3 separate regions of the Homo sapiens genome follow, and all the other regions are linked to region 2. Evidence: fine-mapped expression QTL. A gene starts in region 2. Each other region holds a variant in brackets. All regions are shown on one strand. Distances are from middle to middle. Region 1 overlaps BRD9 (bromodomain containing 9). Region 2 holds the start of TPPP (tubulin polymerization promoting protein). Region 3 overlaps ZDHHC11B (zDHHC palmitoyltransferase 11B (putative)).

What was found.
Region 1: its variant is fine-mapped to the expression of TPPP in whole blood (TOPMed, PIP 0.97).
Region 3: its variant is fine-mapped to the expression of TPPP in spleen (GTEx, PIP 0.98).

The regions. Positions count from the first base shown.
Region 1 is chr5:866,428-874,427 of GRCh38, forward strand. BRD9 (bromodomain containing 9) reads right to left here. Exons shown (of 16, transcript NM_023924.5): 13 at 5,099-5,137; 14 at 4,046-4,148. Among named protein-coding and RNA genes, the nearest start is that of ZDHHC11, 19 kb to the left of the region's middle. The variant A/G (reference allele first, on the strand shown) is at 3,434.
Region 2 is chr5:688,339-696,592 of GRCh38, forward strand. TPPP (tubulin polymerization promoting protein) reads right to left here and starts at 5,014. Exons shown (of 4, transcript NM_007030.3): 1 at 4,940-5,014. It overlaps LOC101929898 (a long non-coding RNA gene), which reads left to right and starts at 5,202. Exons shown (of 2, transcript XR_925675.4): 1 at 5,202-5,384; 2 at 5,743-8,254. RefSeq lists enhancers at 4,440-5,022, 5,936-6,814 and a silencer at 5,017-5,266.
Region 3 is chr5:749,119-757,372 of GRCh38, forward strand. ZDHHC11B (zDHHC palmitoyltransferase 11B (putative)) reads right to left here. Exons shown (of 14, transcript NM_001351303.2): 5 at 6,848-7,026; 6 at 5,880-5,981; 7 at 2,015-2,139. Among named protein-coding and RNA genes, the nearest start is that of ZDHHC11B, 31 kb to the right of the region's middle. RefSeq lists a silencer at 2,829-3,019 and enhancers at 4,382-4,881, 5,015-5,094, 5,205-5,284, 5,305-5,354. The variant A/AC (reference allele first, on the strand shown) is at 4,699.

The DNA.
Region 1 (8,000 bases), 180 kb after region 2:
GACATGCCCTGTAGAACTGGGTAATGAGCAGAGGCTAGAACAGCTGGGAGAACTTAAAGACAGGAAGATGAGGGAAAGTTTGGAACTACCTAGAGACTTCCTGCATGGCTATGATTCAAATGCTGATAGTGATATGGACAGTGAAATCCAGGCTGAGGTGGTCTCAGATGGAGACGAGGACCCCATTGGGAATGGGGGCAAAGGTCACTCTTGCTATTCTTTAGGAGAGACTGACAGCACTGTGACCCTGCTCTAGAAATCTGTGGAACTTTGAACTTGAGAGAGATGATTTAGGGCACCTGGTGGAAGAAATTTCTAAGCACTAAAGCATTCAAGAGGTGACTTGGCTGCTTCTAAAAGCCTATGCTCACTTGCACAAACAGAAAAATGACCTGAAACTGGAACTTATATTTAAAAGGGAAGCAGAGAGTAAAAGTTTGGAAAATTTGTACCCCTGCCATGTGGTAGAAAAGAAAAACCCATTTTCTGGGGAGGAATTCAAGAAGGCTGCAGACATTTGCGTAAGTAAAGAGGAGCCAAATGTTAATACCTCAGGGACATTTCAAAGACCTTTGCCCAGACACTGCCATCACAGGCCTGGGGGTCTAGGAGGGAAAAGGGCCCCACTACTCTGTGAAGCACTGGGACATGTGCCATGGTGCTCTGTGTCCCAGCCATGGCTAAAAGGGGCCAAGGTACAGGGCTAAAAGGGTCGATGCTTCAGAGGGTGCAAGCCCCAAGCCCTGGAAGCTTCCACATGGTGTTGGGTATGTGGGTAGGCAGAAGGCAAGAGCTGAGGTTTGGCAGCCTCCACCTAGATTTCAGAGGATGTATGGAAAAGCCAGGGTGTCCAGGCAGAAGTCTGCTGCAGGGGCAGGCCCTTCATGGAGAACCTCTGCTAGGGCAGTGCAGAGGGGAAATGTGAGGTTGGAGCCCTCACCCCACACAGAGTACCCACTGGGGCACTGCCTAGTGGAGCTGTGAGAAAAGGGCCACCGTCCTCCAGACCTCAGAATGGTAGATCCGACAGCTTGCACCATGCCATCTGGAAAAGCTGCAGGCACTCAACACCAGCCAGGGAAAGCAGCCACAGAGGCTGTACCCTGCAGAGCCACAAGGGCGGGGCTGCCCAAGGCCGTGGGAGCCCATCCCTTGCATCAGTGTAGCCTGGATGTGAGACAAGGAATCAAAGAAGATTCTTTCGGGGCCTCAAGATGTAATGACTGCCCTGCTGGGTTTCAGATTTGTAGCCTGCTGCCCCTTTGTTTTGGCTGATTTCTCCCTCTTGGGATAGGTCTATTTACCCAATGTCTGTACCCGATTTGTATCTTGGAATTAACTAACTTGTTTTGGATTTTACAGGCTCACAGGCAGAAGTAACTTGCCTTGTCTCAGATAAGACTTTGGACTGTGGACTTCTGAGTTAATGCTGGAATGAGTTAAGACTTTAGGGGACTGTTAGGAAGGCATGATTGTGTTTTGAAATGTGAAAAGGACAAAAGATTCGAGAGGAGTCAGGGGCAGAATGATACAGTTTGGCTCTGTATTCCTGCCCAAATCTCATGTTGAATTGTAATTCCCAATGTTAGGGGAGGGTCCTGGTGGAAGGTGATTGGATCATGGGGATGGATTTCCCCCTTGCTGTTCTCTGTTCTCATGATAGTGAGTGACTTCTCATGAGATCTGGTTGTTTCAAAGCACTTCCCCCTTTGCGTTCTCTCCTGCTCCGCCATGTGAAGACATGCATGTTTCTCCTTCATCTTCCGCCATGATTGGAAGTTTCCTGATGCCTCCCAGCCATGCCTCCCAAACAGCCTGAGGAACTGTGAGTCAATTAAACCTCTTTCCTTCACCAATGACCAGTCTCAGGTGGTTCTTTATAACAGTGTGAGGACAGACTAACACACCACAGCACATCAGCACCAAAGCCCATCAGCACCAAGCTGCTGAGAAGTAGTAATAAGGACAAAATCTTAGAAGTGCTGAGAAAAACAGCTGCTGTGCAGAAAAGTGCTGTCACAGCGGCCTGGGGCCAGGGTCCCCTGGAAGGCAAGGCCAGCCACGGCTGGCATCTGGGGTCCCCCCCAGTGCTAGGGATTGTTCACAGCTCCAACAACAGGAGCAGAGTGGTTTATGCTAAAGTTCACCTTCCCTCCGGGGTCTGGACTTTGGTACCTGCCTGGCAAGGGGGTGCCCTGTGACCCCGAGCACCAAGCCTCTGACGGGCTTCCCTGGTGGGCATTTCACGTGTGTTGTCACAGCTCACTCCTGGGAATTAAGCGTGTCCCATGTGCCTCTGCTGGGAGTGGATCTGGGCCTCACGCTGGGTTTCCTTGGATGTCACTCTTGTCCCTCTGCTGCTGTTGGCACCCTTCCCCTATAATAAATCACGGCCATAAGTGCCTGAACAGAGCCAGCAGAGACAGGTGGAACGTCACCACGCAAAGCAGTGGGACCCATGGATCCAGGCACCACAAATGCTGCTGGAGGTCAGAACAGCTCGGGGGCGCTGCACCGGCAGCCTCCCAGGTGAGGGCACAGTCTCCAGGATGGCCCCACCGGCTGATGCCAACTGAAAGCCCCAGGCTGTGGTCTGTGCTTCCGACTAACCAGCTATCAAATGGGGTTCCCAGAAGACCAGACTTGAGCTCTATGAATTTCCTAGAGTGACTCACAGAAGTCAGGGAAACATCTGTAAATGAAAAATAAAATTCTAAGCCCCATGGACTGAACGGATTCCCACTCTTGGCCAAGGGCACTCCAAAGTCAACCTGGAAAATGAGGTCAGGCCATGATGTGAAGCGGGACTGGACTTGCCTCATTATCCCCTCTTTTGGAATTCAGGCACAGCTGACCAGCATTAACTTTAAAACAGAAATCTGAAGGTTGACAAAGCAGACTCCGTGGTAATAAGACACCAAATTCCGATCCGACTTTAGTACAGCATCACGTGATAGATGGCAGGCCCTGAAAGAAACTGAGTATTTTATCTCAAAATATATCCCTTTGACATATTTTGAAATAGCCCTGCAAAGCTGTATCTTGTGGGAAAAATCTACATTCTGTAGAGAATCTCCTGCCCCTTCCAAGTCTCTTCCTGACCCAACAGAGATTTAACTAACAATCTGGTACCTTTGAGGGCCTCATGAGTGATGTTTGCCATCTACTCTACTCTTTTTGAAGCCTGCTACCTGAAGGCTGAATTCATCTATGTGACAAGAACCTTGGCTTCTACAACTGCTTATGTTAACCATGCACATTTCTTTCTGACTTCAGCTCTTCAGAGCTTAACCCTTTCAACCAAATGCCAATCAGGAAATCTCTGAATCCACCAACGACCCGACATTCCTCGCTTCAAGTTGTCCCGCCTTTCCAACACGAACCACTGTTACAACTGACATGTACTGACTGATGTCCTCTGTCTCCCTAAAAC[A/G]TATCAAAACAAGCTGCAGACCAGTCCTCCTCGGCAAATGTTCTTGGGACCTCCTGGGACTGTGTCACAGCCACGGTCTTCGTATTTCACTCAGAAGAAACCTCTCTAAATACCCTGCAGAGTTTGACTCTTCTGTCCACACACTAGGCTGACATTTACCCATTTATTCTGCGGGGTGTCACCCAGGGTACGGATGGGCCCCAGGTGGGAGCGATGCAGAGGGGACCCGTGGGAAGGGGCTGCCTTCTTCCCAGAGCCTCCAGGCGTCCAGCAATGAGGCTCCCTAGGGAACCCCACCTTTTGGGATTTCATGGAGGCGGTAGGCAACACTGATGAAATCCACAGCCACTGGGGATCGGCCAGACCCCATCCTGAGGTTACCCAGGGGCTGCAACCACTTCTCATTAGCTTAAAAAAGACACAACACTCAGGAGATTCCAAGGATTTTAGGAGCTATGGTCCAAAAACCTGGGACAAAGACCAAATACCGTAACAAAAGATTTTCCTGGCATCCCTGTCTAGTCAGGAAGGGAGAGGAGGTGGAGGCCGTGTGTTTTCTTCCTCTATCACACCTTCACCAGGTGCTGTGGGAAAGTGCCTGTTACAACTCACCCAGAGAGCTGAGCATGGAGATATCCACAGAAACGTCGGGATAGGACTTCATCGACATGAACTCCAGAACAGAGCTGCTGCTGTCTCCTAGGGTGTCCCCAACCTGTGGAGACAGACACACATCAAGAGCAATTCAAACATCAAACGAAAAACGAAATGTTACTTCACACTCGCTATTGAAATCACTCTAATTATTTGCTAAACGTGAACCCACCCCTCAGTAAGTGACAAGACCAAGCCCTGTTCACTGAGGCTGCTGTTCAAGGGACTGTCAGGTTGGAGCTCATGAATGGATATGCAAATCCATGTCAAAGAAAAACCTACTGAGACCAACAACGCAAACTAACAATCCTTTGTTAACTTTTTGGGGCTAAAGAAATTGGGGAGGGACATTATGCAACAGGAAGACACACAGAATTTTAGGGTCCAGGACTATTTCTCAGGCACTTCACAGAGCACACAACGTTCCCTTTCCTTTCCCAGCAAGGCGTGTCCTCAGGGCTAGACTACAGCCACCCTAACACATACTCTCTCATCAGCTCCCTGCAGCTCGGCCTCTGCCCTCAAACAGATGTTAAGGGGTCTCTCCAGGTTCCCAGGGACCCTGGACCAAAGCCCAAGCCCATGCCTGCTGACTGTCAGAGACACACACCTGCCAATCGGCAGGTGCAGCAGTCTGGGCTCACAGCACTGCCCTGCCAGCACTGGCCCCAGAGCCCACTGTGCTTGGGACAACACCTGCTACTCACCAAGCAGGTCCTGAGAAGGCCCATCCTGCCCAACCCTTGCAAGGGTGTCCCACAAGGACAGCACCCAGCGGGGCCAACTGCTCTGAAACTACCCATTTCTGGATTTGGAAGAATGTACTGCGGCTTCACACCACTCACCTCAAGTCATGAAAAGAGGAGGAGAAACACTATTGATCTTACTGATCAGAAACGGACTCCATTTCTAAACGCCGTCATACACACAGACCTCCCCACCTCAAAGGCTGGATACAACTTTCCCTGTGAGAATAATATTTGGCTTGCCCTTCCATGTTCAAAAACTTACCTTGGCTTCATCTGGAGGCTTCATGGGAACATTTCTTCTCTGAAAAGTAAATGAGGACAGAAACTAGTTTTTCCAGAGTGATTTCATAGAAACGGACAATTCGCTGACATTACACACACGTAAAAATGGCTTGTGCGCTTCTGCGAATTCTGCTCCCCAGTCACACCATCTTAATGGATTAAGGCTGGGGGTCCTCCAAACCTTCTTCATCACCAGTCACTGACCCAACCACGCCCAGCCCCCTCCTCAGCGCCAGGATTGTGTGCCGGGGACAGCGCTCCACAGGGCGAGATGGAGCGGACAGAGAGAGGACGCCGATGCTGTTTCGGCAGCCTTGGGTGGCTTAAAACAAAAGAAAAAAGATGTGCCTAGATCCTATGGGAAGCTTAGGATAAGAAGGGTCTCGTGGGTTCCACCTGGAATATGACCAGTTGCCTGAGACCAGCTCGAGTCCTGCAGGGGCAGGTGTGTGCAGGAGCAAAGGAGGCAGACACCTCCTGGCAGTGCCTGTGGCAGGTGGGCCTGCCGTGGGCGCAGGAGCGAAGGAGGCAGACACCTCCTGGCGGTGCCTGCAGCAGGTGGGCCGGGCCGTGCATTGTCTCCTTCCACAACTGTCGGCCTCCGTGGCACACCCGTCCTGTGCTCCGGTGGAGCGATGCTGTAGTATATGCACTCTATCATGTGTGATCTTTGTTCGAAATAATGTTTCTCAGATTCAATGACATCGATTTTCACAAGCTTTTAATTAGAAAATGAATACTGCTGTTTTGTTCGCATCTGTTTCCCCAAAAGCCTTCAGTCACTTTAGTCCTGAGCATCATTTACTGCGGGGGTGCACTCGGGGTCACTCAACTCCATATCCAAGTTCACTTTCCCGAAAGGAATCTAACTGGAACCCAGAGAGGAAACCACAGAGCCTTCCCATTTCCGGGCTGTGAGGGGGTCACTTTCCCTACCCCACAGCAATGCCTGATTCTAACGCTGTGTTGGGGGGGCCAGCTTCCTGCCTGGAAGGAGCCTGCAGGCCACGACACGGGAGGGTGACCAGAGCTCAGAGTCAGAACCACGAGCTGGTGGGGCAGGCTCTGCAGAGGGGGCTGCTCCTCAGAGCTGCAGAAATCTGCTTGGGGACTCCCGCCTGGCTGCAACCCTCTCTTCAGGGGCCTGCGAGCCCTCCAAGCATGGAAATCAAGGAAAATCTTGAGTTCCTTCAAGGGAAATTCCAGTTACTTAGATAACTCTGAGAAGTAAATCAGCGACTTGATAAGCAAGAAGGTAACAGTATCCTAAAACAACAGTCAAGGAAGGTGGAGACAGATGTTTGTTCCCTGTAGAAAGTAAAGACAACCTCCCAGCACTGTTCCCTGTAGAAAGAAAAGACAACATCCTACCACTCTGGGAGGCTGAGATGGATGCATCATTTGAGGTCAGGAGTTAAAGACCAGCCTGGCCAACATGGCGAAACTCCGCCTCTACTAAAAATACAAAAATTAGCCAGGTGTGGTGGCGCATGCCTGTAATCCCAGCTACTCGGGAGGCTGAGGCAGGAGAATCGCTAGAATCAGGGAGGCAGAGGTTGCAGTGAGCCACAATCACGCCACTGCACTCCAGCCTGGGTGACAGAGTGAGACTCTATGTCTCAAAAAGAAAAAAAAAGAAAGAAAGTAAAGATAACATCTTAATGTATATCCCTGAGTTGTCTTTCAGAAACCTGGACCCTCCACCTAGGACCTCCCCAACAAACTAATCTACTGGCATGAAGGGCTCAGATAAGGAGAAACTGAAGACTGAGCTCTGACCCCGTTCTTTGTTCTGAATTTCTTCCTGACGGGCCTGGAGGAAGCCACACCCACAAGCCTAAGCTAACATTCTTTTCTCTTCACCCCAAATTTTTAAACAAAGCTTCTCCTCCTTAACCAGCTGCAAATCAGAAAACCTTTGAATCCACCTATAACCTATAAGGCCCTGCTTGCAGATACCGCCCTTCTAGGCCAAGCCGACATGTAACCTCTGTGTCCTTATGCACGACTCTGCCTTTCAGTTCTGCTTTCCTGAGATCTACCCCCGCTTTACAAGCCTTGCCTGTAGCCAGTGGGGGAGGCCAGGATTTATACATGAGCCTCCTGGCCCACCTTGCTTGGCGCCCTGCAAATACACACGTCCTTTCTATGACAAAACCTCGGCATGGGTGTCTGGGTTTACTGCACCAGGCATGTGGACCCCAGTTCATCTGTAACAAGCACAGATGAAACCGTCAGGTCAAGGGACTGACCCCTCCTTGGGAGCCATGAGCCAAACGTTCTCAGAGCCTGGGAAGGACAGAGACTCATCCGAACTCCACCCACAGCAGAGACCACGCTGAAAAGACAGGGCTCCCCGAAGGGCCACTCCTTAGCATTAAGGCTACACGAACCCTAGAATAAGGCTGCCCTGGACCCACCCCAGACAAGCCTGGTAGGATCCGGCCATTATCCACAAGTAACAACTGCCAAAATGATCATCAGTATTCTCTGAAAGAGAGAAAGAACCCAGATCAGCCTTGCCCAGCAGACATAACGCGAGCACACGCCTCGTTCTAAATGTTTTTTTATCTTTTTTTTGAGACAGGGTCTTGCTCTATTGCCTAGAGTGCGGTGGTGCAATCGCACTGCAGCCTCGACCTCCCGGCCTCAAGTGATCCTCCCACCTTAGCCTCCTGTGGAGCTGATGACAGGTGCATGCCACCATACCCAGCTCTTAAAATTCTAGCTGCCACATTAAAATTACTCTTAACATTCAATTAACTAATGCATTTTACTTAGACAAATTTATTGAAGATGTTTTTATTCCAACATGTGGGCCATAAGAAATCGTTACTCATATTTTTACGTTTTTTGCATTAGTTTTTTAAGATCTAGTTTGT
Region 2 (8,254 bases):
GGCGCTGAGCACGAGCACCTGGGGCTCCTCGACGCAGTGTGGACGGACCACTCGCGCACAGTATTGATCCACGTTAGCCAGCACAGCAGTGTGCCCACCACGTGGCTTCTGGTTAAAGGTTAAAAACAGGCAAAGCCAAAGCACAGTGCTCAGGAATTGCAGCTTCGACGGGAAAACGGACGGTGAGTAAGACCCCATCCCACTCCCGGAACACGAAGAGAGGCGGCCCAGAACGGCTGGCACTAGAACTGCAGGTGGACTGTGCCAGGTGCCAGGTGGGGCCCTCCCAGCAGGCGGCCTGGGGACACGTGGGCACTGACGAAGGTGGCAGGAACAAGCCTGGTGGGAGGTGAGGCTGAGATGAGCTTCACCCCAGTGGCTCTGTCCATGGCCCAGGCTCCTCAGGCACTGAGAAGGCAGAGGTGCCACCCCGCCGAGGGGCAGAGAAAACCGGCCCTTGGGCAGCCTTAGGAGAAGCGGGGGCCGGTGTGCGCAGGAGAGGGTGGACGCCCCAGATGCAGCCACGGTGGCCAGGTCACCTGCGAGATGCCATGGGTGGGAGATGCAGGTGGCTGTGCAGCGGTGCCCTGGGCTCAGGGGGAGGGGCTGGGTCAGGTCCCCGGGGCTGGCTGGGGCCTGGACATGGCTCCCTGGCCCTGAGGCACCAGCAGCACTTCTGAGTGGGGTGGGACTGGCCTGGTGTGTTTCTGGGCGGGGATCCAGTGTGAGTGGGTGAACAGTGAGTGGCAGCCATGGGCACGCTGAGGTACGCACACTTCACCCACCTCTGTGGGCCAGGAAGGCATGTCACATACTCCTGACAAGGCAGAGGGTGCTGGGAGCTCGCCTGTGTCAGACATGAGGGCCCTTGGACCAGGGCCTGGGTTTGAAGCCACCTCCATACCCCATACACGGTGCTCACTGCTCCTGGCCCCATTGACTGATGACTGATGGCCAGAGGGGGACAGCAGCTGTGTGAAGTCGCCTGGCAGGTGCGGCTGTTGGTGGCACTCCCTGGGCGGAGGCCACGTTGGACATTTGTGAACAAACGAGCAGGTTGGGGTTACAGGTTATAGGATCTGGGAAATGTGGTCTGTGATGCCATGCGCCCTGGGGGATCTCATGGAGCCCACATGGGCAGGCACCTTTTATCATGCCAAGAAGTCAAACGTGGGATGCCATGTGGGGAACATGCCCTGGGTGGGGGAATACCCTGGGTGGAGATGCCATGTGGGGAGGATGCTCTGGGTGGGGAATCTTTGTGGGGGTTGTCCTGGGTGGTGGAGCCTTGGTGAAGGAATGGCCTAGGGGGTGGCTCTGGGAGGGGGTGGCTCTGGGATGTGGATGTCCTGGGAGGGGGATGTCACCTTAGGGGGAAAGCCTGTTGCAGATGCCCTAGGAGGGAAGCCCTGTGTGAGAGATCATCTGGGTGGGGGCTGCCCCGGGTGGGGGATCATCTGAGTGGGGGCTGCCCTGGGTGGGGGATGTCCCCGGTGGGGGATCATCCAGGTGGCAGATCATCTGGGTGGGGGATCATCTGGGTGGGGGATCATCTGGGTGGAGGATCATCTGGGTGGGGGATCAACTGGGTGGGGGCTGCCCTGGGTGGGGGCTGCCCTGGGTGGAAGATCTTATCAGGGGGATGCAGTGGGTTATGGCCCTGTGGCAACCCCAAACACACACACACCAAGAAGAAGCTGGTCTCCCTAGGAGGAGGATCCACGCAGGGCAGCTTGGGGTTTGGCTCGTGGATGCTGGGGACAAGGCCTGAGCCCCAGATGTGGCTGGGCCTGACCCAGGCAGCTCCACCCCTTCCTTCCCAGGAAACACCTTTTGCTCGAGCAGTAGGAACTAGGCGTGTGTAGATTCTGCTGCCTGATCCTGGCTCCTGGCTGAGGGTTTGTGGGCTCAGATGGACTAGACACCCGGCCACAACCCTCCTGGGCATAGCCTTCTGGCTCCCCCAGCCCAGGCGGAGGCATTGAGCGACTCTCCTCACCCAGAGTGTTTTCCCGAAGGCGCTTCTGCCTGAGGGCACCAGGCTGGGCCAGGTACTGCAGGGCGCTGACCAGCACTGGCCTGGGGGCCCCAAGAGCCCCAGATGGCATCCCTCTCACACACTCCCCCTGTCTCACCAACAGCTATAAATAGACTCGGCTCTCTGCTGGCACGGCCTCTCCCGAGGAAGCTTTTAATTCTCTGCGTCCTCTGCAGGGGGTGGCTCCCACAGGCCTGGGAGGGAACAGACTGCCTGACTCTCCAGAGAGCTCCCCAGTCTCCATCTGCGATGGGTGATCCTAATTTTCTTCAGGAAGTTCTCCTGAGCCCTGCGTGTGGCGCTTTGGCCTTTGTGCCCACGGAAGCCCCCTGCGGCCCCTCCCTCCGGGCCCTGCCCAGCCCGGTGCACGAACCCTGTTTACCGATTCCCAGGCCTAGGGCAGCCACTGCCAGTGTGAGGCTTGCAAATTAGGGTAGGGGGTCAAAAGGAAGCCCCTGTTGACCATTTCTGTGAGCATTCTATGCTCATTTCCACAACGAGCATTTATAACCTCGTATAATCGCTAAAACATTTATTGCAACTTCAGGGAATTCGGGAAGATAGACCAACCGCAGCTGTAAGATTAAAACGCAGCCAGTGACCAGCGGAGCTTCCTCCACGCACACGCGGTCCAATCCCCATGACTTCATGTTTTGTGAAGATGCAAAGCGAGTTCATGCCGGCGCCTTTCTGAATCAGAGATCCGTTTAGAAACCATGAAAGCTGCAGACCCCTCCCGGGAAAACGCACACACCCTCCTGGAGCTCGCCTTCTGCAGCCGCTCCGGGAGCCCGCCCCTCCCCCACAGGCCCTCCGAGGATCACGTGGTGGGGAGGCGCTGGCACCGAGCGGCTGACAGGCGCGAGAGCCCAGTTCAAGGCGGCGGCATCAGGCTGCAGCTGCCTCACTCCCCTCCACTTCCTGCCCCTTCCCGGCCTTGGTCCAGCCCCATCTCCTAGTCCCAGGCCACAGGGAGCTGGGTCACCTCCCAGGGGCAGGGGCTGGCTGGGCGTGGGGGGAGACCTCTCCCCCTGAGAAGTCAGGCGGGGAGGGGTGGCCGGGGTGGGCGGAGGGGCCCAGTCCTCTATCGGTCCCCCAGGGGCCCTGCAAGCAGAAGAGCCAATAAACATGCCAGGTGGATCAGCGGTGACACTGAGAGGGAACGCAACACCCCATCAAAACAGCAGCCCCCCAACCCCCATCAAAACAATAGCCCCCAACCCCCATCAAAACAGCAGCCCCCAAACCCCATCAAAACAGCAGCCCCCAACCCCCATCAAAACAGCAGCCCCCAAATACCCATCAAAACAGCAGCCCCCCAAACCCCATCAAAACAATAGCCCCCAACCCCCATCAAAACAGCAGCCCCCAACCCCCATCAAAACAGCAGCCCCCAAATACCCATCAAAACAGCCCCCAACCCTCATCAAAACAGCAGCCCTCAACCCCCATCAAAACAGCAGCCCTCAACCCCCATCAAAACAGCAGCCCCCTAAACCCCCATCAAAACAGCAGCCCCCCAAACCCCCATCAAGACAACAGCCCCCCCAACCCGTATCAAAACAGCAGCCCCCAACCCCTCATCAAAACAGCAGCCCCCAGACCCCATCAAAACAGCAGCCCCCCAACCCCTATCAAAACAGCAGCCTCCCAACCCCTATCAAAACAGCAGCCCCCAACCCCCTATCAAAACAGCAGCCCCCCTAAGCCCCCATCAAGACAGCAGCCTCCCAACCCCACATCAAAACAGCAGCCCCCCAGACCCCATCAAAACAGCAGCCCCCAACCACCTATCAAAACAGCAGCCCCCAACCCCTATCAAAACAGCAGCCCCCCAACCCCCTATCAAAACAGTAGCCTCCCAACCACCTATCAAAACAGCAGCCTCCCAACCCCCTATCAAAACAGCAGCCCCCAAACCCCTATCAAAACTGCAGCTCCCAACCCCCTATCAAAACAGCAGTCCCCCAACCCTATCAAAACAGCAGCCCTCCAACCCCCTATCAAAACAGCAGCCCCCCAAACCCCTATCAAAACAGCAGCCCCCAACCCCGTATCAAAATAGCAGCCTCCCAACCCCTATCAAAACAGCAGCCCCCCAAACCCCCATCAAGACAACAGCCCCCCCAAAACCCTTATCAAAACAGCAGCCCCGCCACTGCCCGGGAGGGACAGGCTTCTCACCTCCCTCGGCTCCGTTTACGTAACCGAAACCGCAGAATAAAGGGCTCCTCAGATCTTCGGGCGCTGCTCCCAGGGGTGCGGGAAGGTGTCCCGGCAGCGCCTCTCCATCGCCACAGGCCCGCGGACAGTAGCCAAGACCCGGGGCAGCTGGAGGCTCTGCGGGGGGCGGTCTGACAGCCCCACCTGCCAGGACGCGGTGGTGTCAGGACCCTGAGATGGGCCGTTTCTGTGGCCAGGGATCTCTCAAAACCTGCTGCGGGCAGTGACTTCATTCCAGCCCTCCACGCCCTAATTTCCCACGCCTCACACCGGCGGCCCCCTAGGCCTGGGAATAGGGAAACGGTTCGAGTCCCGAGCTGGGGAGGGTCTGGAGGGAAGGGCTGCAGGGGCGTCCGTGGCCGCGAAGAAAGGCCAAAGCGCCAGGCACAGGGCCCGGAGACGGTGACAGACCTGTCCCTGGCGCGGCCGACGGTGACCCCCGCTCGCGGCCTTTGCAAAGCCTCCCCGTCGCGTCCTCGCACCGAGCCCGCAGCGCCGAACTCCGGGCATCCCAATCCGGGGGCTCAGGGACGCGCGGGGCGGTCCGGGAAGGGGGCTCGGGGGAGCGCGGGGGGCAGGGGCTGCGGCGCAGGTGGCTGCTGGGGCTGACGGGCCCAGTCTCCGCCCCCGGGTGCCCCCCGCGCCGCGCCCGCGGGACCGAGCCCCGCGCCCGCTTACCTTGGAGACGCAGCGACTGCAGCGGAGGCGCCTCCGCGACTCGGCCGCGCGCGACCCGGTGCTCAGCGGAGCTCTCCAGCCGCCGCCCCGCGCCCGCCCGTCCCGCCCAGCACCGCCCAGCCCCGCCCAGCCCGGTCCCGGGCCCGCCCCCGGCCCCCAGCGTCCGGCGCCCGCCCAGCGTCCCGCCCCGCGCGCTCATTGGCAGCCCCGCCCCCGCCGCCCCACCCGGCCCGGGGACGCGCGGGCGCACCGAGACCTCTGCCTTACAAGGCCGACTCTGCTCAGGCCCCGCGGACCGCCGGGTATCCGCTCAGCGCAGGGCGCGGCCGACCCGCGGGTCGTGGGAACCGCTGGGCAGGGGGCGGCGGGGCCCCTCACCTGGCTCTGGGGCCCCCCGGGGACGACCGGACCCCGATCTCTCCGCCCCGCAGGACGCGCGTTGACGGTGCGGCGGGGGATGGATGAGCGCGGCCGCGGCCTCCTGGGGTGGGGTGGGTTGGCGGCGGGGCCTCGAGGACGGTGCGGGGCGAGCCCCGACCGCGCCCAGTTCTTTAAGGAGCCGCAGACGGTGCAGGGAAGCGGCAGGGCCGGGCTGTGAGGGTGCTCGGACCCCAAGGCGGGGCGCACCCAGGGGACTGGGCTTCCAGGTGGGGGCAGCGCGGCCGGGGATCGACCTGAGCAGGGAGACGGGTCCGTGCCGGGCGCCCAGCGCAGCTGCTCGGGAGTGGGCCGCCCTTCACGCAGGAGTGGAGGAGCGGAGCGCGCACCCCTGACCCCGGCCTCAGCTTCCGTTCTCCCTGCAGGTCGCCCGTATGCAGCGCCACCATCCCGGCCGCTCTTCCAATCTCGCCTTTCTCCGGGCACCTGCCGCCCCTCCCCCGCTCCCCAGACAGGCTTTGCGGAGGGGGCTCATTCCGCCCGGGGCTGCCCGGCCCTCCGCAGGAGTTGGCTCCCCACAAGGTTCCGGGGCCGAGATGACAGGGCGGTTCTGTGGTGCTGGGTGCTGGGACTTGAGGGGCATAGGGGCACCTGCCCTGGAGGAGGCCGAGGCGCAGCCCCCCAGGAGGAAGGGGTGCCTCTGGTGACTTTCAGCTGGACTCTTCCAGCTGGACTCTAGTGCAGCTGAGCTCCTCCCCCAGCCCCGGCTCTGTCCCTGCACCAGGTGTCCAGCAGGCCCTGGAATCCGCAAAGGCAGAAGGGGAAGTTGGGGTGCTGGGTGCTGGGCAGGGGGTGCTGAGGCCTCACAGCCCGGCGGCTTGGCCCCCACCCACCCCACGGTGGTCCCGCGCCCCACACTTCCTCTCCTCTCCTGTGGTTTCTCCTTCCACTCAGTGCTGCCCAGAGATGGGCTTCTGTCTAGTTCTCCTGAGAAATTCCACACTCGCAGCTGGGAAGTCGGGGGACCCCCGAAGCTGTGCGGCGGCCACGCTGCGGCTCCTGCTTCCCTCCTGCTCGGGTGCGGGCTCGGCTGCCTTCTCGTCCCGCGGAGCCCGGAGTGCCTCCCCCTCGGGTAGATCCTACTAACAGCATCAAAGAAATAATGAAATAATCTCTCCTTGGTGTGTTCTTACCGTCCTAATAGGCACAAGGGGACTCTTCAGTGCATTTTCCAAAACCTGTACAAACTCTCTTGACATAAATGCAGTGAGTTTACAATAAAATCGCAGTGGGAGGTAACGTCAGGCTTCAGAGGCAGACATGGTCCTGGAGCCTTTGGGAGGAGAGGAGAGGAGAGGCAGCGGGCGCGGGGCGGCGTCCAGGGGGCTGAGCGAGGTCTGGGCAGGAGGACAGAGCTGAGCCTTGGGCTGCCCTGGCCCCTGCGCAGGACACACAGTGACCGGGGCTGGGGTGGGCACCCCGGTTCTACCGTCGGGAGTCGGCGTGTTCATGGAGTCTGTTTCCTTGTCTGTGGGTGAAACTTTGGCTTGGGGTCACGGGTGTGTTATTTCCCAGCGACAGTCGGTTCAGTCAGCACTTACAAAATCACCAGAAACAGGGGCACAGGATCTTGCTCAGCAGGGAGAGGTGGATCCTGATTCGGGACTCCAGGCTCTTCACCTGGCCATGGCTGCCCGTCCGGTGGCCCTTCCTGGCCCCCAGCTCTTGCTCCACTGCCAGACCTGGACAGCCTCCATTAACCCTGCAATTACTGAAAACCGACTCACAGCCAATGATGTGATCCACGCCAAGTGTCCCGTTATAAGATGTTTCCTGGGGATCCTTAGAAAATCACTACAAATGGGTTGAACAACAGGGCTTTCCTCTTACGGCTTAGGAGGCCAGAAGTCCGAGATCAAGGCCTGTGCGCTCCGGAGGTTCCCACCTCTTCCAGCTTCTGTGGCTCCAGGCGGTCCTGGGTGGTGGCCGCATGGCTCCACCTCTGCCCCTGTCCTCACGGGGCCTCCTCCCCCGAGTTAGTGTGTCTGTCTCTTCCTTTGCTTATCGGGACACCTGTCACTGGATTTAAGGGCCGCCAGGAGAAGCTGGGATAATCTCAAGATCTTTAATCGAATTACATCTACAAAGATCCTATTTTAACGTAAGGTCTTACTCTGAGGTTCCGGGTCAATGTGACTTTCTTGGGTGGGGGTCACTACCACCCCAGCACCAATGCTTTTCCCAGCTCCACCTGTGTTACCGTGTCAGTGACCAGGAGCGTTCCCCGGGACACCTGCCTGCTTGTAGCTGTTTCCACGGCTTCCTGCACAGGTTCTGCGTCCGCAGTTGGGAGCACCAGGCCAGGCAGCTGTCACATAGGAGGAGGACAGCTCTCCGGGACAAGCCCCTGCTGCCTGGCACCCGCGCCCACCCCTGCCTGGGTTTGGGGTTGGGTTTTGTGGGTAGAGGTTCAGGCTGACAGTGGAGGTTGGGAAGAGCAGACACAGCATGGTGGGTAGCACTGGAAGCCCTGGGTGGAAGGGATGGTGGGAGATGCTGGGCCATCTGGGTCTGCAGTGGGAGACCAGGACAGGAGCCCAGGTCCATTGGGAGGCCCCATGCTGAAGACAGAGGCACGGGGAGCGGGGGGAGCAATGGACTCACGCGGACAGCAGCAGACATGAAAAGGCCTCCGAGGCCAAGTGTGAGGATGCCGGGTCCCAGCACTGAGGTGTCCTGCAGCTGGACCTGTCAGGTGTCCACCCACCCCTGGCAGCTGAATGTCCTTTGACGGCCTATAGGCTGAGCAGCTTCTTTGGGCCCCGTAGGGGTGTGTCCCACAGCAGGTGAGCAGTCAGGGCCCCTTGAGAACCCTAACCAGCTCCTGTGTGGGCCCTGGGCTGGGGACAAGCTACAGCCTAGGTGCATGAGGTCAGA
Region 3 (8,254 bases), 61 kb after region 2:
CAGGGTCACAGCGCCTGCTGGCTCTGCCGAGTCCCAGCATCCATCCCTTCCTCATGGCCCACGCTGTGTCCCTGGACCCTCTGCACCCTAAAACAGCCGCCTTCAAATAGAACAGGAAAGCCACAGCTCTCACCTGGGGTCATTTCTAAGATATGGTCCTCTGTGACACTGGGCTGCCAACACTCAAAACCACAACACTTCCAAAAATCAGGCGTAATGCAGAATGGCAGAGGGCCAGGCAAGGCAGAATGGCAGAGGGTCGGGCAAGGCAGAATGGCAGAGGGTTGGATTCAGTGTGGATGTCTTTGGGTGACGGACCCTCTCTGGAACTGGCGGCCTTGGGGGCCTTCCTAGATGGCCCGACGGGACAGTAGCTCAAAGTGCCTGGGCCGGGCTGGACCCCATGCTGCCCCCCTTAGCCAGTGACATCACGATGAGTTCAGCCCATGAGAACAAGGAGCTGCTTTGCTCAGGGCCTTGCTGGTTTTGAAGCCCTGCAGAATCATCTGGAACAGCAAACGGAGGAATTCGCTCAGGCCACAATCAATGAACTCACACAAAGACACTGGCACTGCCGTGTGGAAGCAGCATGTTCCAGGAGAGAAGGCAGCACATGCCATCTTGGCCACCTCTGCTCTCTCACTCTCCCCTGGCATCCCCCACAGGGAGAGCCCAGACAACATGGAGGCTGCTGGGGAAGGTGACTTGCTACAGGGGGAGAAGAACGCAACAGGCATCGTCCTGGGCTTGGGTCCGCTGAGGTCAGGGCCTCGCCAGGGTGGAGCTGGCTTTCAGGAAGTGCTTCAGAAGCGGCTGTGAGGCCCTGGAGGCATCAGTCACGCTTCGAAGTGGAAGGAGGAGCTTTAGGGACTTCCACGTGGAGCTGGCAAAGCTCATCCTTGAAAAAAATGTCACACCGTGTTGGCTCCGGAATGTTCTGGAACAAGGGCAGGCAAGTCCTCCCTGTCTCACCACCCGGGCTGTGTGCAGTGCGGGTGCAGCCATGCCTGGAGCTGAGACTGGCAGTCTTGTCCTGCACCCCGAGGGGCTTCTCTGGCCCAGGTCCTCCTGGTCAGGGTCCTGGCGCTGCTGCAATAAATACATCAAATGGTGGCGGGTGGGGGCAGCTTCTCCAGCAGACTCTTGCAGTCTGAGGCAGGCAGGGCTCTGACGTCCAGCTGCAGGACAGTTGAGCGCGCTGCCTCCGCAGGGTCCAGGGAGGTCCTCCCACCTCTGCGAGCTCCTGTGGCTCCGGGCGACCCCGGGCTGTGGCTGTGTGACTCCACCCCTGCCTCCATCCTCACGAGGCCCCCTCCCCTCTGCGTCTCTCCTTTCTCTTACAAGCACACTCGTGGCTAGATTTGGGCTCCCTGGGACATCCCAGCATGACCCTCCCACCTCAGATATTAAGTCACAGCCGCAGGCCCATTTCCCGAGGATGCTGGCATCACGGGATCTGGGTTAGGCGTGGACTCGCCTCTGGAGCCCACAGTCCTCACCGCCACGTCTCTCCAGTGGCTCAGTGTGAGCATTGGTTCCCGAGGCCCAGGCTCCGGGCCCACTTGGCCAAGGGCCTCAGCACACCGCAGCCTACAGCCCAGCACCCTCAGCGCTGCCTCCACTCTCCCTCCCCATGGGCTGCTCCTGCAGGATGGGCACCCCCACCCTCCCACAGCTACATGGCCCCACAGGATGGTGTGACAGGTGCTACAGGGCTGACTGCGGAGGGCAGGGGCAGAGGTGGACCCCACTGTCTCTCGCCTGACACGACCTGGCAGCATCTACAGAGCAGCGTGGCCAGCGCCCTCCCCGAGCCTGCCTCCCGCGCGCTGGGGGCTGCTGGGCTGTATGAACACTGGGCTGCTGCCGTCGGGCCAGGTCAGAGCCTGCATGGGGCTGCCTGCCCCGGCCTCTCCCTGGGACAAGAGGGGCCGACCACCCCAGACCCGATACTACCGCCCGGAAAGACGGCTGGAGGCGAGGATGAGGCCCCTTGAGAGCGGCGGCCACGTACCTTCATACCTGGGGTCCGTGCGGAGCACCCTGGGGTTCACGAGGTACTGGACGAGGACATACAGCAGGATGGCGATCAGGCAGAGCATGCCAGCTGTGGCCGAGGCCACAGTGCTGAAGAAGAACCTGCCGGGAGACACACAGGCAGGCATGGGGGTGGGGACGTGGGAGCAGTGGGGGCGCAGGGGCAGGTGTGGGGGGCACGGGGGCAGGGGGTGTGCACAGGGTGGGCAGGGGCGGGCGTGGGGGGCACAGCGGCAGGGGGCACGCAAGGGCAGGTGTGGGACAGGTGTGGGGGCGGGGAGGCAGGGGCAGGGACACGCAGGGCATCTGAGGCAGGGGCGGGGGCATGCAGGGCAGGTGGGGGGTGCAGAGGCAGGGGCAGGGACACGCAGGGCATCTGGGGCAGGGGTGGGGGCATGCAGGGCAGGTGGGGGGTGCAGAGGCAGGGATGGGGACGCGCAGGGCATCTGGAGCCCGCAGGGTGGAGGTGACAGGTCAGCGTGGGCGTCCACTTGAGAGAGGGCTCCTGGCCACTGCCCGATGCTGGCCTCAAACCCTGCTCCCGACCATGCCTGGAAGCTCAGGCTCCTGTCTCTGTGCCATCCTGTGACGCCCCCCCAGGTCTCCAGGCCTCTCGCTGGAGAGGGGTGGCCGTGGGACATTCCCACCAGCACACCGCCTGACAATTCAGGCAGTGCTTCTTGCAAACGTGATTGCCTTTAATCCCCACAAGGAACAATGAGGTTGTGAGGAGGGGGAACCAGCCCTTTTCACGAGTGGGGAAAGTGAGGTCAGAGATGCGGTGCGACTCGCCCAAGCCTACCAGCGGAGCATGAGGGTCACACGGCGTCTCCAGTGTCACAGCTCTGGGGCCTCTGCCCGCACCTCCCGACTCCACCTGATGCAGACAGGCCTCCCTACCAGCCAAGGAGCACGCAGGCTGGGTCCCCTCAGGGGGCCCTGAGCATGGTCTGTGCTGGGGTCTCCATGGCACCATGCTGGGCAAAGGCACTGAAGCCAGGGAAGGGGAGAGCCATGAGAGTGCCGTGGCACCCAGGAGGGCCTGCAGGCTCAGGGACCTGGATCTCTGCACCCAAAGGGAACTCAGGCTGAGGAGGCCCTGGAGGAGCCCGGCCACACCTCGGCTGCAGTCCCCCCTTCTCCAAGGGTCTTGTGCAAATCTGAGCCAAAAGCGATGTCCATGCTGTAGACCTGAGACCAAATCCACTCCCAGTCTCTCGTCTTTGCTCAAAAGATGCAGAGAATAATCCATCCAGAAAAACCAATTCTGGGCAGCAGTTCCTGGAACACACTTTGACTAAACCATCTTCCCTTGGTCTTTCTGCCATGATGATATTTTTTTTAAAGTATCCTTTAACCTCCTTTAATCCTTTCCATTGTATTATGTTCACCTAAGCTTGTTTAAATCCCTTTTTCTATTTTCAACTGGAGGCCAGAGCATGAATGCCGCAGTCGTCCGAAGACGCAGTTAGGGCACAGCTGCCTTCCCCGCGCTCCTCCTCCCTCCAAGAGTCTTCTGGATAATCCAGGGGTGAGGGGTGGCTCCGGGCGTGAGCGGCTCCCTGACTGCTGCTCCCTCATACTGCCTTCCCTCTCACAGCTTAGGTTTCCCAAGCAGCAGCCCCTCCAGGCAGTGGACACGCCCTACCCTGCCCCCAGTCCTCCTGGGCTCGAGCCCACTTGTGGGGAGTAAAGACCCCTCATCCTCATCCTACTGTCTGGAGAGGACTCCCCTCTTCATCCAGGAAAGAAGGCGGGTCTCTAAGACCACAGAGACCAGAGACCACAGAGACCAAAGCCCACAGGATGGGGCAGACCCATTCACGCGGGGCCTCCTCTCCCCGCAGCCACCCAGGGACATTCTCCTCTTGGTTAGCACAGCCTCCTGCCCCTGCTGCCTGTGTTTAACCTGCAGAGTCCGAGGCCAGCGCTCGCAGTCTTCCCAGGACACCAGCGCCGCCTGCCTTCTTTCCGTCCCCCTTCCTCTCTTATCACTACGAAGTATGCAGCCTCCCTCACAGGGGCTCTGCCATCAGCTGGGCCTCCCCATGGGGGCTCCGCCATCAGCTCGGCCTCCCTCGCGGGGGCTCTGCCATCAGCTCCTCAACTTTCCTCATCTTGCTCTCAATGCCGTTGCTCTCTCCGCCTCTGGCGGATGAAGGGACAGAAGCGAGGTTGGCACAGATGCCGGCGTTGGCTGCTGCCTGGAGCTGAGGGCGCCCATGACCCCGGCCCTGCTCTCCTGATGCCCCTTTCCCACACACAGGCGGTGTCTACACTTGGCACCCACGTGGTCCCTCTCCAGCACCCCTCCTGAGGAAGGCAGACCCTCTCCTTGCCACCTGCCTGTGGGCCCTCACCCCCTCACCTTCCCCACCAGGACCCGCCAGATTGAGCCAGCTCGAGGCACCAGAGCAGAATGAGTCCAGAAGGAAGTGGCACCTGGGGCTAGCATGAGCCAGAGGAGCTGGCCCCACCTTGGCCATCGTGGAGCTGCTCTTCTCCAGGGGAGGAGGCGGGTGGGTCTCCCCGGCCCCTACCATCTCACGCAGCCTCTGGACTCGCTGTGCGGTCATGCAACCTCTCTGTCCCTGCCGGGCTGCTCAGCCTCTCTGGACACATGCTGTGCTCCAGACGGGATGGCAGGGAGGCAGGGCAGGG[A/AC]CCCCCCGGTGCGTCCTGTGACACCAGGCAACGTTGGTCCCCACTCCCACGCACACCAAGGCCTCTTTCAGGTCAGCACAGAGTAGCTGGGGAGCAGGCGTGGTTCTTTTCCCTGGTGATCTTCACAATACAGTGCTGCAGACAGCCGGGGCTCAGCACACGGGGCCTTGAGAGTCCCTGGATCCTCCACTGTGCTCAGGGGAAACACCTCTCATCTATGAGCCTCCACCGTGCTCAGGGGAAACAACCTCTCGTTCTTGAGCCTCCACCGTGCTCAGGGGAAACACGTCTCATCTATGAGTCTCCACTGTGCTCAGGGGAAACACCTCTCATCTATGAGCCTCCACCATGCTCAGGGGAAACATCTCTCGTCTATGAGCCTCCACCATGCTCAGGGGAAACACGTCTCATCTATGAGCCTCCACCGTGCTCAGGGGAAACACCTCTCGTCTATGAGCCTCCACCGTGCTCAGGGGAAACACCTCTCGCCTATGAGCCTCCACCACGCTCAGGGGAAAGACCTCTCATCTGTGAGCCTCCACCGTGATCAGGGGAAACACCTCTCATCCTTGTGCCTCCACCATGCTCAGGAGAAACACCTCTCGCCTGTGAGCCTCCACCATGCTCAGGGGAAAGACCTCTCGCCTGTGAGCCTCCACCGTGCTCAGGGAAACATCTCTCTTCCTTGCATCTCCACCGTGCTCAGGGGAAACACCTCTCGTCTATGAGCCTCCACCGTGCTCAGGGGAAACACCTCTCATCTGTGAGCCTCCACCATGCTCAGGGGAAACACCTCTCGTCCATCTGCGCTGGGTGCCCACTGCCCTTCCGTGGCCCCACCCTTGTGCTGGATGAGCCTCAGCCTGGGTGGAGAGAAGGCAGCCCAGCCCAGGACAGCGTGGTCAGGAGGCCTCAGCCAGCGTGGCCCCGCAAGTGCCCCCGGGGGGCCTCCAGGGACTTACTCTATGCGGATGAGCTTGTCCAGGGACGGCTGCACCACAGCCCCAGAGCCAGACAGGAGGCCGGGGCACGCAGGCACCAAGCGCCACCACATCAGGACAGGGACGTGGCCCCAAGAGGACCCTCCACCCTTTCAACACGAGGACCCCTGCCCACAGACCCCTCCCTTCCAAATTCCCCCAAGCCTGGCCCGTGCCGGCCATCCCCTCTGTGCCCCTCACCAATAATTCCGGCTTCCCACGCAGTTGTTGATCCATTTGCAGTGGTGGTCGAAGCCGGACACACACTTATTGCAGGAAATGCAGTGTTTGGTTTTCTTGTTCCTGGAGGGATGAATCGGGGAACGCCTGTCAGGCCCCAAGTGCGCAGGTTGGGGCAGGGCCAGAGGTCCATCACTGGAAGCCAGGTGCCTCGGAGGAACCAGCCCTGTGCGGCCTGGGGAGAGGGCGTCCAGCAGGGAATGGGAGGCTGGGGGAGGGTGTTGAGGCCTGTGGGGAGGAGGAGAAGCAGGGCAGCTGTGGGCAGAGGTAGCCACAGAGCAGGAGGAGCTGTGTCTGTGGCCGCCCTGAGCATAGACCCCCCGCCAGCCATCCTACACCAGCCTCACTCTGGGCCATGGCCCTGGAGGAGGCCGCGCCTGCCCCATGGTTCCAGGAGTTGAGGCCGGGGGCTTGGATCCCACCTGTGCCTACAGGGCCTCCCTTGCAGCTGACAACAGCCCTGTAGCCACCCCCTAGGCCATCACAGAGGCCTCCAGGGCCCCTGGAGACACTGGAACCCTTACCTCCCACTTTCCTAGGGGCTTGTCTTGAAACTCCCCAAGAAAGACAGTGCTCTCTTGCCCTGGGCCCTCAGGGGAGGGACCTCGTGCACAAAATCCACTGAGGACCAAACATGCCTGAGTGCTGCTGTGTTTCATTCCAGGGGAGCAGCGGGTCACCTGCAGGTGACAGACCCAGCCCTCCAGTCTCAGCCCTGCCTGCGGAGGAGTTGGGGCGGCCCGGCACCGCGCCCGGTTCACAGCGAGATGAGGGGCGATCCACCCGCAGCCACAGGGCCGGGCCCTGGAAGCTCCACTAGCATCAGCTGCGGCCATGGCACGGGCCCTGAGGGGCCAGCAGTGACCTGAGCACCAGGACCCTGGAGGTGACCCTGACACCTTGGGGCCTCGGCGAGGGCGGGCACTCACACGGTGACCTTGCACAGGTGGCAGAACTGATTCTGGATCACGTGTGCATGTTTTGATCTGTCGAAGAGGGGCATGGGCTGAGAATAGTTCTTCATGAGTCTGACATTGGAGTCGGCCGGGTCGATGCAGGACGCGATCAGGTGGACGACGAGGTGGAACGAGAAGATCCCCCCGGTCACCTGGCATGTCAAGGAAGAACCTGGCCCAGGGCCTGGTCAGCCTGGCATGAGGCGTCCCCGTGAGGCCCAAGGTCCCAGAAGAGGCGTGGCCACTGGTCAGCCCTGCTCACCCAGCCCTGCACACGTGAGCCCAGCTCACCCAGGCCTGGCCCTGCTCACATGGCCCTGCTTGTCCAGTCTTGCACACATGGCCCTATACACTTGGCCCTTCACACACAGCCCTGCTCACCCAGCCCCGTCCACTCGGCCCTGCACACACAGCCCTGCTCACCCAGGCCTAGAGAAGATGAGGCTACCCATCGGCCCTGCACACACAGCCCTGTGCCAGTCGGGGACCGGGAAGGCTGCCCCCATGCCCCTTTTGGTTCATCCCTGTTGGACACAGGGCAAATCCCCCACAGAATGTACCGCACCCCCAGAGGCTCAGTCAGCCCAGCCAAGCACAGTGACCCCAAAACCCTTTACAGCTTGAGGGACAGAGCAGGGCCACAGGAGGTACGCCCCAGGTGTAAACACAGCCGGATACAGCCCCAAAGGCCCTGGAGGAGCCTGGGTTCTTTCATACCAGAGACCCCTGAGCACTGGGAGAGAAGACAGCCTCAGACAGGAGGAGCAGGGGGAGGAGCGAGGGAGCTGCACAACCTACCCGCTCCCTCTAGACCCCAGACGGCTCACTGACGGACCCTCTCCCCGAGACTTGCTCAGGGAAACACCCCCTAGACTCATTCAGGGACCCCAGACTCATTCAGGGACTCCAGACTCTCTCAGGGAGCCCAGACTCACTCAGGGACCCTGGGCCTCTGTCTTGGGCCCTCTGGGCTCGGAGCCTGGCTGTGGGGGCACTGGGGAGAGGGTCCTTGTCCCCTGGAGCCAGGAGAAGCTGGGCTCCCCGTGACTGGAACGTCAGCTTCCGCCCTCAGATACTGGCTCCCTCCTCCTCTCACCCTGGGACAAACACAGACTCCCCATGGCAACCAAATAGAAGGGGTGGAGTGCGGGGCCCTCCCGTCACCCTGCCTGGCTCCTGGACCGCCTTCTAGCCATGAGTTCAGGGTTGACAGCCATCTCCACAGGGCAGCCCAGAGGCCCTCACAGTGTGGCCTAAGCTTGGCATGGAAACGCAGGCTGCCGGCCTGTGTCGCACAGCGCTGTCCTCCTTGGCCCCAGGGGTGAGGAAGAAGGTGCTGGCCATGTGCAAAAAGCCACGTAGGGATTTTAGCAGAAGGCT